4 linked regions of the Homo sapiens genome follow. The protein of the gene in region 1 purifies or fractionates together with the protein of each later gene. This does not show direct contact. Each region holds a gene or a part of one and is shown in the gene's direction. Other genes may lie near its edges.

Region 1 (3,500 bases):
CAAGGCCCTGGGAGGGACAGTATTGGGTAAACAGGATACGGAGATGGCTCCCACCCCAGACCTAGCCACTAAGCCCAGGAGAGCTGGCCAGATGGACCCCAGAGCCTAGCGAGCCAGATTGAGTGGGGCAGAAGCCTATGCAAGAAGCTGGGAGGTGTGTGAGGGGCACTACTGCTAACGAAGGAGTCTGGGACCACAGACATGCCTGGCACAACATGGAAGATGCTGTAAGCCTCAGTGCCACCCTCAACCTCAGCGACAGTGTGACTCCTGACGCCTGACCCCAGCCCAGGCCCAGGCTCTGAGCAGGGCTCTCCTGCTCCATGCCTCCCAGTCTCGGTCCTTCTGCCAGGACCTGTGCGCACAGAGGGAGGCCCCTGGGAGTCAGCATGAAATGGGGTAGGGGAGAACCCAGGAGAAGGATCGAAGCCTCCAGACACCCAGGAAGGGGGCCTGCAGGGACTCTGGACACTGCAGTCAGGGTCCCCCGGGATGTGGGTTCAGAGAAGGATCTAGGGTGACAGCAATGGGAACAGGTGGCAACTGCTTCCCGGGCCTTTGGGTCAGTGGTCCTGCGCTGTCGCCCCCAGAGAAGCAGCTGACGGCCAGCAACTGCCTGGGCGTGCTGGCCATGGCCGAGGCCATGCAGTGCAGCGAGCTCTACCACATGGCCAAGGCCTTCGCGCTGCAGATCTTCCCCGAGGTGGCCGCCCAGGAGGAGATCCTCAGCATCTCCAAGGACGACTTCATCGCCTACGTCTCCAACGACAGCCTCAACACCAAGGCTGAGGAGCTGGTGTACGAGACAGTCATCAAGTGGATCAAGAAGGACCCCGCGACACGCACACAGGTGGGGCCTGCCCTGTCCCCCGCCCCTTCTCTCTGGGTTTGGGGTCCCCCTGCGGCAATGGGGTCTGCAGCAAGGAGGAAGGAAGTGAACCTTCCTTGTCCTGCTCTCCCTAAGTGGCAGAGAGGTGAAGGGCGGGCAGAGAGGTGAGAAACCAGTCACCAAAGGATCCTCAAGGGCTGGCATTCCACCCCAAAGGAGACCCAAGTCGGCCAAGAGCCGCAGCACCTGCACTCTGCAGGGAGAAGTGGGTCCCTGAGCCAGGGGGCTCTGGGGCTCCCAGGAACACGGACCCAGCTGGAGGAGCCCATACCTGCTCTGATTGTTGAGGGGATGGACAGCCCGCAATGGACCAAATGGAAACCCCTGCATGCAGGAAGAGGGAGAGTGAGGTCCTGAGGGGACTGTGTTGGGTAAACAGAGGATACAGAGAGGGCTCCCGCCCCAGATCTCGCCATTGAGCCCCAGAGAAAGGGGTCCTCAGATCAGGTGGGAGGCAGGGTTTCTTTTCAGAGGTAGGAAGTTAGATGGGGCAGCTAATAACAGTGACAGCCACAAGTCCCTATGACTCCCAGATCTGTGTCTCAGGCTGAAACCCTTTCCTGAGCTCCAGACCCCTCTGCTCAGTGGCCTTCTGGGCCTCTCCAGCAGAATGTCCTGCAGATCCGTCTAATTCACCAAGCCGAAAGCCTACACCTCTTCCTGTTCCTTATTTCAGCGATGCCTGGTCCCCAGAACTGAAGCTTAGCTTCCTCCCACTTCTCCCATAGCCATTTCGCTACACGCGCTCATTCCTGCCTCCTTCCTCCCCTTTAAGTGGATCGACTTCCCTCTCCCCATCGAGACCTTCCTCCTCTCGCCAGGATTACTGCAGCACCTCCTAAGTGGTTTCCTTGCCTCTGTCTTGCTCCCTCCAAATCCATTTTCCACCCTCCAGCCTGAGCGGTCTCTCTAAAAGCACACTGAACATCTCATCCATCCACTCAAACCCCTCCTCAGTTGCCTCGTCGACTCCACAGGGGAAACTGTGCAGTCCTTGTTGAGCATGAGCATGAGCTGGCCTCCCCAGCCTCTCTCCTCTCACTTCTCCCTGTCTCCCTAAACGCCTCCTCAACAAAATCCTGTTACATCTCGTAAGAATAAACCCCAGACAATTCTCCAGACACACCATTCTCTTTCACTCTCTGACGCCTCTACACGGGCTTCGAATGTCCACCCTCCCATCCACCTTGTGCCTGGCAGAAGTCTGCCCATTTTGTATACCCCATCCAGATGCCATTCCCTCTGCAAAACCTCTTACTCCTGCACCCACTACAAACCCTCACTAGACACTCCTCTTGCCCCTCGTGAATTTTTCATAGCAGATCCCCTCCCATTAAACTGTGTACCCCTTGAGGTCTGAAACTGGGTCACAGTGGTCTCTGCACCCCCAGTGATGAGCGTCATGCCTGGCCTATGGTGGTCTCGTTACTCATGGGATGAAACGAAAGTAGAGTGATGAGCAGAGTTTGTTAGGAGGGGAGATTCAAGGGAGCCTGTAAAACCACCTCAGTGCAGGGTGACAGTTTGAGGCCGTGGGACATGGGACACCACTGAAAGTTTTCGGTGCTGGAGAGACACAGGCTCCCACGGCTGAGACTTACAAGCTCAATAGTCGCCATCTCCTTGAAGCTTTCCTGGGTCCTCCCACCTGTTCCTGAGTCCTTGTCACACTCACAGCTCTTTAATAATCGCGTCTTCCTCATTTTAACCCCTCGCCCCTGCCCCCAGTGGCCTGATCTGCAGCAGGGGTCCACAGCCCCAGGTGGAGTGAGAGAATGGGGTGCTGGGGGGATGAACACATGCTCCCACTCCTGCAGGGCTGGCTGCAGCCTGCCAGCCTCCCCTCCGCACCCCTGCGCTCCCGGCCCTCCCCTCCACACCTCCAGCTGACTAGACTTCCCTTCACCTCTGTCTAGGCTAGCAGAGTATCTACACTCCCAAGCCTAACACAGCCTGGAATTATCCATTCTTGTGCAGCCCCACACCATTTCTTTCCGTCCGGGAGGTGGCTCTCTCTTGCTAGTCTAAGAAGATTCTGTCTCCTGTACCCTGCAGTACGCGGCTGAGCTCCTGGCCGTGGTCCGCCTCCCCTTCATCCACCCCAGCTACCTGCTCAATGTGGTTGACAATGAAGAGCTGATCAAGTCATCAGAAGCCTGCCGGGACCTGGTGAACGAGGCCAAACGCTACCATATGCTGCCCCACGCCCGCCAGGAGATGCAGACGCCCCGAACCCGGCCGCGCCTCTCTGCAGGTATGAAGGGGCACGCCCCGAACCTCCCAAGAAGCAGTGTCTTGGGCTCAGTGGTTCCAGTGAGGTGCCAGGCACAGATGCCGACAGTCTTAGAGTGTGTCCCAAGGGCGCCCATCCATGTCCCTGCAGGTGTGGCTGAGGTCATCGTCTTGGTTGGGGGCCGTCAGATGGTGGGGATGACCCAGCGCTCGCTGGTGGCCGTCACCTGCTGGAACCCGCAGAACAACAAGTGGTACCCCTTGGCCTCGCTGCCCTTCTATGACCGCGAGTTCTTCAGTGTAGTGAGTGCAGGGGACAACATCTACCTCTCAGGTGAGGCCCCCCGGGGTTGGGGCGGGACCAGGCATGGGGGTCCCA
Region 2 (3,500 bases), on another chromosome or scaffold:
TGAGATTTATTCACTATCACAAGAAGAGCATAAGAAAGACCTGCCCCCATGATCCAGTTACTTCCCACTGGGTGCCTCCCAGATGTGGGGAATTGTGAGAGCTACAATTCAAAATGAGATTTTGCTGGGGACACAGCCAAACTGTATCATTCCACCCTGGGCCCCTCCCAAATCTCATGTCTTCACATTTCAAAACCAATCATGCGTTCCCAACAGTCCCCCAAAGTCTTAACTAATTTCAGCATTAACTCAAAAGTCCACAGACCAAAGTCTCTTCTGAGACAAAGCAAATCCCTTCCGCCTATGAGCCTGCAAAGTCAAAAACAAGTTAGTTACTTCCCAGATACAGTGGGGGTACAGGCATTGGGTAACTACAGCCGTTCCAAATGGGAGAAATTGGCCAAAACAGAGGCTTACAGGCCCCGGTGCAAGTCCAGAATTCAGCAGGACAGTCAAATCTCAAAGCTCCAAAATGATCTCCCTTGACTCCATGTCTCACATCCAGGTCAAGCTGATATAAGAGGTGGGCTCCCATGGTCTTAGGCAGCTCTGCCCCTGTGGCTTTGCAGGGTATAGCCCCCACTCCTGGCTGCTTTTATGGGCTGGCATTGAGTGTCTGTGAGTTTTGCAGGCACGCAGTGCCAGCTGTCGACGTATCTACCATTCTGGAGTCTGGAAGATGGTAGCCCTCTTCTCACATCTCCACTAGGCAGTGCCCCAGTGGGGACTCTATGTGGGGGCTTCAACCCCACATTTCCCTTCTGCATTGCCCTAGCAGAAGTTTCTCCATGGGGCCCTGCCCCTCATGGAGGGGACACAGCCCTGCAGCAGACTTCTTCCTGGATATACAGGTGTTCTCATACATCCTCTGAAATCTAGGCGGAGGTTCCCAAACCTCAGTTCTTTACTTCTGCACACCTGCAGGCTTAACACCACATGGAAGCCGCCAAGGCTTGGAGCTTGCACCATCTGAAGCCATGGCCCAAGCTGTACCTTGGCCCCTTTCAGCCATGGCTAGAGCACCTGGGACACAGGGCACCAAGTTCCTAGGCTGCACACAGAAAGGGGGCCCTGGGCCTGGCCCACAAAACCATTTTTTCCTCCTAGACCTCTGGGCCTGTGATGGAAGGGGCTGCTGCAAAGGTCTGACATGTCCTGGAGACATTTTCCCCATTGTCTGGGTGACTAACATTCGGCTCCTCCTTACTTAGGCAAATTCCTGCAGCCAGTTTGAATTTCTTCTCAGAAAATGGGATTTTCTTTTCTATCGCACTGTCAGGCAGCAACTTCTCCAAGCTTTTATTCTCTACTTCCCTTATAAAACTTAATGCCTCTAACAGCACCTGAGAACCTCTTGAATGCTTTGCTGCCTAGAAATTCCTTCTGCCAGATACCCTAAATCATCTCTCTCAAGTTGAAAGTTCCATAGATCTCTAGGGCAGGGGCAACATGCCACCAGTCTCTTTGCTAAAACATAACGAGTCACCTTTGCTTCAGTTCCCAACAAGTTCCTCATCTCCATCTGAGACTACCTCAGCCTGGATTTCATTGTCTGTATCATTATTGGCATTATGGTCAAAGCCATTCAGCAAGTCTCTAGGGAGTTCCAAAGTTTCCCACATTTTCCTGTCTTCTTCTGAGTCCTCTAAACTGTTCCAGCCTCTGCCTGTTACCCAGTTCCAAAGTCGCTTCCACATTTTCGGGTATCTTTTCAGCAGTGCCCCACTCTACTGGTATCAATTTACTGTATTAGTCCATTTTCACACTTCTAATAAAGACATACCCAAGACTGGGTAACTTACAAGAAAAAGCGGTTCAGTGGACTCACAGTTCCACGTGGTTGGGGAGGCCTTTTAATCGTGGTGGAAGGCAAGGAGGAGCAAGTCACATCTCACATGGCAGCAGGGAAGAGAGAACTTGTGTAGGGGAACTCCTCTTTATAAAATCATCAGATCTCATGAGGCTTACTATCATGAGAAGAGAACGAGAAAGACCCACCCCCATGATTCAGTTACCTCCCACTGGGTCCCTCCCACGACGTGGGAATTGTGGGAGTTACAATTCAAGAGGAGATTTGGGTGGGGACACCACCAAACCGCATCACCTGGCAAGGTGGCATGTGCTTGTGGTCCCAGCTACTCAGGAGGCTGAGTGGGAGGATTGCTTGAGCCCAGGAGATTGAGGCTGCAGTGAGCCATCATGGTGCCACTGCACTCCAGCCTGGGTGACAGAGAGATACCCTGTCTCAAAATAAAAACAAGGGTCTCACAAGACCTGCTTTGCAACCAATTGTTAACAGTTCACATTATGTTTAAGTATATGTAGTAATAAAGCTGATTTTCTTTCAGAATTATAGACTTCAGGGGTTTGATAATTCGTACTTGTTTTCTGAATTGGTAAGGAATAGTGCCAAGCATCAAATGGATAAGGACCCTAAATAATAAACCTTTATTTTCAAATATTGCTTCCATATCTACCTGCCAAGTTCTGGCAGCCTTTTTGATGATATACAAATGCCTATATTATAGTTCCTGCAATTCTTCTATTTTAATGAGGACCTACTTAAACCACGAGACTTATTTTACATTTTCACCATTATTTAAATAAGATTGTTCATTCATAGAGCTTCTGTTAGCCTACGGTCTGCTAAATATTGGTACCTATGCAAAGACAGCTGATGTTCCCTGCTCTTGAGGAGCCAGGGGAACTTTTCACTGCAATATCTGTAGTAATTTTACATTTTGTCTTTTAGATAAACTCAAGCCATGGAGGGATTACTGCATTACATCAACCCTGCACACGCCATTTCTCTCCTAAGTGCCCTGAATGAGGAGCGTCTCAAAGGACAGCTGTGTGATGTGCTGCTGATTGTTGGAGACCAAAAGTTCCGAGCTCATAAAAACGTCTTGGCTGCCAGCAGCGAATACTTTCAGAGTTTATTCACAAATAAGGAAAATGAGTCACAAACTGTATTTCAGCTTGACTTCTGTGAGCCAGATGCTTTTGATAATGTTTTAAACTACATTTATTCTTCCTCTCTATTTGTTGAGAAGAGCAGCCTTGCTGCTGTGCAAGAACTTGGCTATAGTCTTGGGATTTCCTTTCTGACTAACATCGTTTCTAAAACACCTCAAGCCCCCTTTCCAACGTGTCCTAATAGAAAAAAAGTGTTTGTAGAAGATGATGAAAACAGTTCTCAAAAGAGAAGTGTCATTGTTTGTCAAAGTAGAAACGAAGCGCAAGGAAAAACTGTTAGTCAAAATCAACCCGATGTAAGCCATACTTCCCGGCCCTCTCCTAGCATTGCAGTCAAGGCCAATACCAATAAGCCACATGTCCCAAAACCAATAGAACCACTTCATAATTTGTCATTAACTGAAAAGAGTTGGCCGAAAGATAGTTCTGTGGTATATGCAAAGTCTCTTGAGCATTCTGGATCTTTGGATGATCCTAATAGAATCAGTTTGGTGAAAAGAAATGCAGTGTTGCCTTCAAAGCCT
Region 3 (4,058 bases), on another chromosome or scaffold:
CCAACCGGCTGTGCGCCTTGGCCTTTCCCGGGTCCAGAATCTGACAGCACTCACACCTCTGACTTCCACACTTGGGCTTCTAGCCAGTGTCCAGGCACAGGATGAGCAGGACTGAGGAGCGTGTCTGTGTCCTCTTCTGGTGCAGGTCAATAAGCATGCGTTTTCTGGAGGGAGAGACACCATCGAGGAGCACAGGCAGTTTGGGGGCAACTGTGATGTGGACGTGTCTTTCATGTACCTGACCTTCTTCCTCGAGGACGACGACAAGCTCGAGCAGATCAGGAAGGTGAGCAGGGAACCCCAAGGGCCCACAGCCGCCTTCTGCCACCCACTCCTGCCCATGGGGCCTGGAAGGCTCCAACAGCCAGGCATGAAGGCTTGGTCGGAGGTGCTCAACTGAAACAAGGTGAAAACTGAGTAGACTCGCCCTCATGGTTTTTAGGCCTGGGCTCAGAAGCCTCATGAACAAATCTCGAAAGAGCAGATACAAATCACTATTCATTTAGGAGCCACCCAAAACAGTCTTGCTTTATTAGTCATCAGAGAAATGTAAGTTAACGTGATCAAAGCTAAGACAGTTGAGTATAGAATTAGTAGGGGCTTTTGTGTTGCCATTGACTATTTTCAGTGATTATGAAGCAGATGCTTCAAGGCACACTCAAGTGAGCAGAGTGTTTATCAGCACAGCCTCAGGAAGCAGTTTGGTACTGGGTACAAAGAGCCCAAAAATGTTCAGAGCTTCTCCTCAGGTTTTCTCATTCTTAGATTTTTTCCAAGGAAATAATCCTGAGTAAGAGAAAGCTTTCCACACAAAGATGTTAAAAATGATAATAGCAAAAAGTTCAACACAGACTCAGTACAACAGAGGAAACGTTAAATTAGAATTGTTACAGGGTGGATTATTATGCGGGCATGAACTATTTTAAGTGTTCATATGCAGGGCATGGTGGCACACATCTGTAGCCCCTGCTACTTGGGAAGCTGAGACAGGAGGATCCCTTGAGCCCAGGAGTTCAAATCCAGCCTGGGCGACATAGCAAGACCCTCATTTCTTTCTTTTTTTTTTTTTTTTGAGACAGAGTCCTGCTCTGTCACCCAGGCTGGAGTGCAGTGGCGCAATCTCGGCTCACTGCAAGCTCTGCCTCCCGGGTTCACACCATTCTCCTGCCTCAGCCTCCCGAGTAGCTGGGACTACAGGCACCCGCCACCATGCCCGGCTAATTTTTTTGTATTTTTAGTAGAGACAGGGTTTTACCGTCTTATTCAAGATGGTCTCGACCTCCCGACCTCGTGATCCACCCGCCTTGGCCTCCCAAAGTGCTTGGATTACAGCTGTGACCACCGCGTCCAGCCAAGACCCTCATTTCTTTTAAAAAAAAAAAAGTTTTAGTGACACAGGAAAATATGCCTATGATAGTGAAAAAAGGATACCAAATGAAAACTCAGGGAGGAGTTAACTATGTTTAAATGAAATGCACAGGGAAAGAAATGTGAAGAAAATCTACCAAATGTTAGCGGGAGACCCACCTCTGGGCATTTTTCAGGTGGGCAATTTGTAGGTGATTTTTCTTTACTTTGCTGCTGCTTTGTGGTTTGGGTACTTTATTAAATTTGCTTAATGAGCATGCAGTACAATCAGAAAAAGAAAAAATTAGCAAGATTTGGCTGGGCGCAGTGGCTCACGCCTGTAATCCTAGCACTTTGGGAGGCCGAGGCAGGTGGGGGGAGTGGATCACGAGGTCAGGAGATCGAGACCAGCCTGGCCAATATGGTGAAATCCCATCTCTACTAAAAATACAAAAATTAGCCAGGCGTGGTGGCAGGCACCTGTAATCCCAGCTACTCAGGAGGCTGAGGCAGGAGAATCACTTGAACCTGGGAGGCGGAGGTTGCAGTGAGCTGAGATCATGCCACTGCACTCCAACCTGGCAACAGAGTGAGACTCCATCTCAAAAAAAAAAAAATTAGCAAGATTTTACAGAAGCCATAAGGCTGCCAGGAATTGTTGTTGTTTAGTGCCTGGGGGAATGGCCCCTAGCATCGGTAGGGGTGGGGACTGCCCTCCCCATTGGCCCTTTCACTGTGAGAGGCCAAGTCATGGCTATCGTCAGAGCCAGGTTTCTAGCCGTTTTAGGAAAAGTGTAGCTGAAGGTATAGGTTATTGTTGTGGTAACAACAGATCTCACTTCTGAGTGCCACCCACGTGCCAGGCTCTGCATGGGTGGTGTGGGCTGAGCTGGTGCCCGAGGCAGGAAGGAGCCACTCAGGACATGTGGAGCCATCTCTCACGTGGCTGTCTCCCTCCGGGCAGGATTACACCAGCGGAGCCATGCTCACCGGTGAGCTCAAGAAGGCACTCATAGAGGTTCTGCAGCCCTTGATCGCAGAGCACCAGGCCCGGCGCAAGGAGGTCACGGATGAGATAGTGAAAGAGTTCATGACTCCCCGGAAGCTGTCCTTCGACTTTCAGTAGCACTCGTTTTACATATGCTTATAAAAGAAGTGATGTATCAGTAATGTATCAATAATCCCAGCCCAGTCAAAGCACCGCCACCTGTAGGCTTCTGTCTCATGGTAATTACTGGGCCTGGCCTCTGTAAGCCTGTGTATGTTATCAATACTGTTTCTTCCTGTGAGTTCCATTATTTCTATCTCTTATGGGCAAAGCATTGTGGGTAATTGGTGCTGGCTAACATTGCATGGTCGGATAGAGAAGTCCAGCTGTGAGTCTCTCCCCAAAGCAGCCCCACAGTGGAGCCTTTGGCTGGAAGTCCATGGGCCACCCTGTTCTTGTCCATGGAGGACTCCGAGGGTTCCAAGTATACTCTTAAGACCCACTCTGTTTAAAAATATATATTCTATGTATGCGTATATGGAATTGAAATGTCATTATTGTAACCTAGAAAGTGCTTTGAAATATTGATGTGGGGAGGTTTATTGAGCACAAGATGTATTTCAGCCCATGCCCCCTCCCAAAAAGAAATTGATAAGTAAAAGCTTCGTTATACATTTGACTAAGAAATCACCCAGCTTTAAAGCTGCTTTTAACAATGAAGATTGAACAGAGTTCAGCAATTTTGATTAAATTAAGACTTGGGGGTGAAACTTTCCAGTTTACTGAACTCCAGACCATGCATGTAGTCCACTCCAGAAATCATGCTCGCTTCCCTTGGCACACCAGTGTTCTCCTGCCAAATGACCCTAGACCCTCTGTCCTGCAGAGTCAGGGTGGCTTTTCCCCTGACTGTGTCCGATGCCAAGGAGTCCTGGCCTCCGCAGATGCTTCATTTTGACCCTTGGCTGCAGTGGAAGTCAGCACAGAGCAGTGCCCTGGCTGTGTCCCTGGACGGGTGGACTTAGCTAGGGAGAAAGTCGAGGCAGCAGCCCTCGAGGCCCTCACAGATGTCTAGGCAGGCCTCATTTCATCACGCAGCATGTGCAGGCCTGGAAGAGCAAAGCCAAATCTCAGGGAAGTCCTTGGTTGATGTATCTGGGTCTCCTCTGGAGCACTCTGCCCTCCTGTCACCCAGTAGAGTAAATAAACTTCCTTGGCTCCTGCTCTTGTCATTGTGCTCTGTCTGGGAGGTCTGAGGAGGGAGCAGAGACCCCTCCCCTCACCCTTCTGTGGATGACCTTGAGTCTGCTGGAGTCAAAATTTGGGGATGAAAGCGCACAGTCCCAGGAACCCCATGGTGTTGTGCCACAGCTCCCAGGAATGGGCTTGTGCTGGGAGAGCCCTTAGCAGCATCCTGGTGCGGGCTCCCTCTCACACCACATTTCTCATTTCCAGCAGCTGATGGAGAATGCAAGCAGAGGTTGTCCTCGCTTTTCAGAGGAGGGGCTGGCCGTGGGGTGCTTAGTGGTGCTGTGTAGTGACGGGGAGCACAGGCTGGGAGCCAGGTCGGGCCCCATTCACATGAGGCCCAGGGCAGAGGCCGAGCTGCAAGGGAGCCCTGGGCTCATTCTACCGGCCCATCCTTATTTTGCAAGTAGGGAAACTGAGGCTTAGGAGAGGAGAACATGACTTGTCCAAGGCCATAGGGTGACTCTGATACAGC
Region 4 (3,500 bases), on another chromosome or scaffold:
CCTCCAAGTTGCTCCTCTCCCTCCTCATCCCTCCTCCCCTCTGTGTCCTTCCTCCCTCTCCATGTTGCTCCTCCCCTCCATGTCCTTCTCCCTCTCCATGTTGCTCCTCCCTGTCCAAGTAGTTCTTCCTACTCCAAGTAGTTCCTTCCCTCCAAGTCACTCCTCCCCCTTCAAGTCGCTCCTCCCCATCCAAGTTGCTCCTCAACCTCCAAGTCATTCTTCCCTCTCCAAGTCGCTCCCCACCCTCCATGCTGTTCCTCCAAGTTGCTCCTGTCCCTCCATGTCGCTCCTCCCCCTCCATGTCCCTCCTCTCCCTCCATGATGCTCCTCCCCTCCATGTCGCTCTTCCCCCTCCATGTTGCTCCTCCCCCTCCAAGTTTCTCCTCTCCCTCCTCGTCGCTCCTTTCGCTCGATGCCAGCAGTGCCTGTGCTCCTTAGGCCTGCTGCTCACAGTCCCTGTTTACTTCATTGTCTTCTTCCTCTGCTTGAACAATGCAGTAAGGGTGGGAATGAGTGATGGGGGTCAGGAGGGTACTGGTTTTATCCCCCTGCCAGAATGAGTATCCTCGCACTGCGGGAACAGGAGGAGGGTTGGAGGGAGAGGATATGGTGCCAGCTGGGAAGGCAGGCCAGGTGCCTGGGCATTGCTCCTTTCCCTTGGGGATGGGGGATGGACGGGCCTGTGGGGAGATGTCCCCTGATGCTTTGGTTTCTCCTTTCTTGCAGCCTCATCTTCATGGTGCCAGTGGCGTGTGGGCTTTTCCCACAGAAATGGTATCTGCTGTTCATTCCTTACTTGGTTTAATTGACCATGCTGCCAGCGCGCTCCCTGATCTGCCTGCTGTCCAGAAGGAGACAGGGAAGGGGCAGGAAGGGCAGCACCTGTCTGAGGACAAGTGTCCATCAGCCTAAAGGCTGGGCCTCTTAACCCTGGTGAATTCTGACAAACGAAAACAGATCTGCGAGGGGCAGGAGAAGCCAGGGACAGGAATAAGGTTGCTCCCTCCCAGTGGAGCAAGCACTGCCTTGAAGAGAAGGTGGGGGAGCAACAACAGACTTTCTCTTCCTGCCAGCTGGGTTATTAGGAAGCTCTCCTCTGGCTGGATCTGGTTTTTAACTTTTTTTTTTTTCTTTTTTTTGAGATGGAGTTTCACTCTTGTTGTCTAGGCTGGAGTGCAGTGGCACGATCTCGGCTCACCACAGCCTCCGCCTCCCAGTTCAAGTGATTCTCCTGCCTCAGCCTCCAGAGTAGCTGGGATTACAGGTGCCTGCCACCATGCCCAGCTCATTTTTTTTTTTTTTTTTGAGATGGAGTTTCACTCCGTCGCCAGGCTGGGGTGCAGAGGTGCAGTCTCGGCTCACTGCAACCTCCGACTCCCTGAACGATTCTCCTGCCTCAGCCTCACGAGTAGCTGGGATTATAGGCACGTGCCACCACGCACAGCTAATTTTTGTATTTTTAGTAGAGACGGGGTTTCACCATGTTGGCCAGGATGGTCTCAATCTCCTCACCTTGTGATCCGCCCGCCTCAGCCTCCCAAAGTGCTGGCACTACAGGCGTGAGCCACCGCGCCTGGCCTCATTTTGTATTTTTAGTAGAGATGGGGTTTCACCATGTTGGCCATGGTTGGTCTTGAAATCCTGACCTCAGGTGATCTGCCCGCCTCAGCCTCCCAAAGTATTGGGATTACAGGCGTGAGCCACCGTTCCCCGTTGGTCGTTAACATTAAATAAGGGGGCTGGTCGTGGTGGCTCACGCCTGTAACCCCAGCACTTTGGGAGGCCGAGGTGGGCAGATCACCTGAGGTCGAGAGTTCAAGACCAGCCTGACCAACATGGAGAAACCCCGTCTCTACTAAAAATACAAAATTATCTGGGTGTGGTGGTGCATGCCTGTAATCCCAGCTACTTGGGAAGCTGAAGCAGGAGAATTGCTTGAACCTGGGAAGTGGAGGTTGCGGTGAGCCGAGATTGCACCACTGCACTCCAGCCTGGGCAACAAGAGTGAAACTCCATCTCAATAAATAAGTAAATAAATAAATAAATAAATAAAGGGACAGGCAGAGGGCTGACAACCGAAACCCCTCTATTTCCTTTGTGTGTCCAAGAAGGAGGAAGCAGGGAGAAGGGATGATGGAAAAGGGAAGGGATACATCAGACTAGGGGGTGGAGGGTGACTGACCCCAGGAGACAAGTGTAGCTTGAATATATACCCAGACAATTCCAGTCTCCCCTTCCTCAGTACTCTAGTTCAATACTACTTCCATGGTCATCTGCTAGACATCTCTTGTGTCCCAAGCACTGTGTTTGTAATCTTGTGGAGAAGATGGAAGTTGAAACGAAGAACCATAGCCCAAGGAGAATGAAGTCAGGCCTGCGTAATGGTAAAGCAACATTGTGGTATACAGAGGCCAATAATAATCCTAGATGGAAAAATCAGGAGGGCTTCTTGGAGGTGATATTCATCTGAGGGTAACTTACTGCTTGTTCCTGGTGGCATGCTCATAATCCACTTCTCTCTTTTCAGTGAATTGCCAGTTTCCTATCTGGAACCGAAGCTCCAAGACACTATCAAGGCCAAGTATGGAGAACTTGAGCCTTATGTCTACTTCAATAAGGGTCTCTAAATGCCCCACTTCAGCAAGGACCAGTCTATTCCCATATTCACCAGCTCCTCCTTAGCTACGTGCACACTTGTGTCCTCCTTCCCCTTTGCCAACAAGGCCTGAAGGCCAGGGTAGATTGGGGGGTGGGACAATGAATGCCTCATACTTACACCCTGGTACTGGTTGATTGGACCTCAGGGGAAAAAAGTGAAAAAGGGTAGCAAAGGCCAATGTCTTCTAGCTGCTTCCTCAACCCCTGTCCCCTGGAGACCAGAAGCTGAGGCCCTCTCAGGGAGGAGACATCCAAGCAAATCATTTGGAAAAGTTAGGAAACCTTTAGGATTCTGGTTCCAGCCAGGGTTGAGGAAAAGACCTTGGATCAAAAGGAAGCTTCTATACCTCTTTCTTCTTCGCTTCCTCCTCTCCCAAGCAATGGAAACTTTTACCCATGTAATTCTAGCTGAACTCAGGAAAAAGAAGGGGGAAAGGACTCTGTCCCCTTGGGGCTCATCACCCTTCCACATCCTCCTCCTCGTTGCCCCCTGGTCAGGCAGCTTCTTTTTTTTTTTTTTCAAGATGGAGTCTTGCTCTGTCGCCCAGGCTGGAATGCAGTGGCGCGATCTCGGCTCACTGCAAACTCTGCCTCCTGGATTCAAGCGATTCTCCTGCCTCAGCCTCTCAAGTAGCTGGGATTACAGGGCACCTGCCACCACGCCTGGCTAATTTTTGTATTTTAGTGGAGACGGGGTTTCACCATGCTGGCCAGACTGGTCTCGAACTCCTGACCTCAGGTGATCCGCCCGCCTCAGCCTCTGAAATTGCTGGGATTACAGGCATGAGCCACCACACCCAGCCCGGACAGCTTCTTTGGGAGTGCTGCTAACCTTGAAATTA

What was found. The genes of interacting proteins can lie anywhere in the genome.
Region 2: the proteins of KLHL29 (region 1) and ZBTB21 purify together in Homo sapiens (affinity purification with mass spectrometry, with the first as the bait; one large-scale study listed by BioGRID). This does not show direct contact.
Region 3: the proteins of KLHL29 (region 1) and WARS1 purify together in Homo sapiens (affinity purification with mass spectrometry, with the first as the bait; one large-scale study listed by BioGRID). This does not show direct contact.
Region 4: the proteins of KLHL29 (region 1) and SFXN2 purify together in Homo sapiens (affinity purification with mass spectrometry, with the first as the bait; one large-scale study listed by BioGRID). This does not show direct contact.

Annotation. Positions count from the first base shown.
Region 1 is NC_000002.12:23,692,679-23,696,178, forward strand, and holds part of KLHL29 (kelch-like protein 29), read left to right. Parts: intron 1-590; coding exon 591-850; intron 851-2,944; coding exon 2,945-3,143; intron 3,144-3,272; coding exon 3,273-3,455; intron 3,456-3,500.
Region 2 is NC_000021.9:41,993,361-41,996,860, reverse strand, and holds part of ZBTB21 (zinc finger and BTB domain-containing protein 21), read left to right. Parts: intron 1-2,752; 5' UTR 2,753-2,765; coding exon 2,766-3,500. UniProt on the Homo sapiens protein: Acts as a transcription repressor.
Region 3 is NC_000014.9:100,333,290-100,337,347, reverse strand, and holds the end of WARS1 (tryptophan--tRNA ligase, cytoplasmic), read left to right. Parts: intron 1-145; coding exon 146-286; intron 287-2,311; coding exon 2,312-2,473; 3' UTR 2,474-3,558; downstream 3,559-4,058. UniProt on the Homo sapiens protein: Catalyzes the attachment of tryptophan to tRNA(Trp) in a two-step reaction: tryptophan is first activated by ATP to form Trp-AMP and then transferred to the acceptor end of the tRNA(Trp).
Region 4 is NC_000010.11:102,735,136-102,738,635, forward strand, and holds part of SFXN2 (sideroflexin-2), read left to right. Parts: intron 1-726; coding exon 727-774; intron 775-2,527; coding exon 2,528-2,627; 3' UTR 2,628-3,500. UniProt on the Homo sapiens protein: Mitochondrial amino-acid transporter that mediates transport of serine into mitochondria. Involved in mitochondrial iron homeostasis by regulating heme biosynthesis.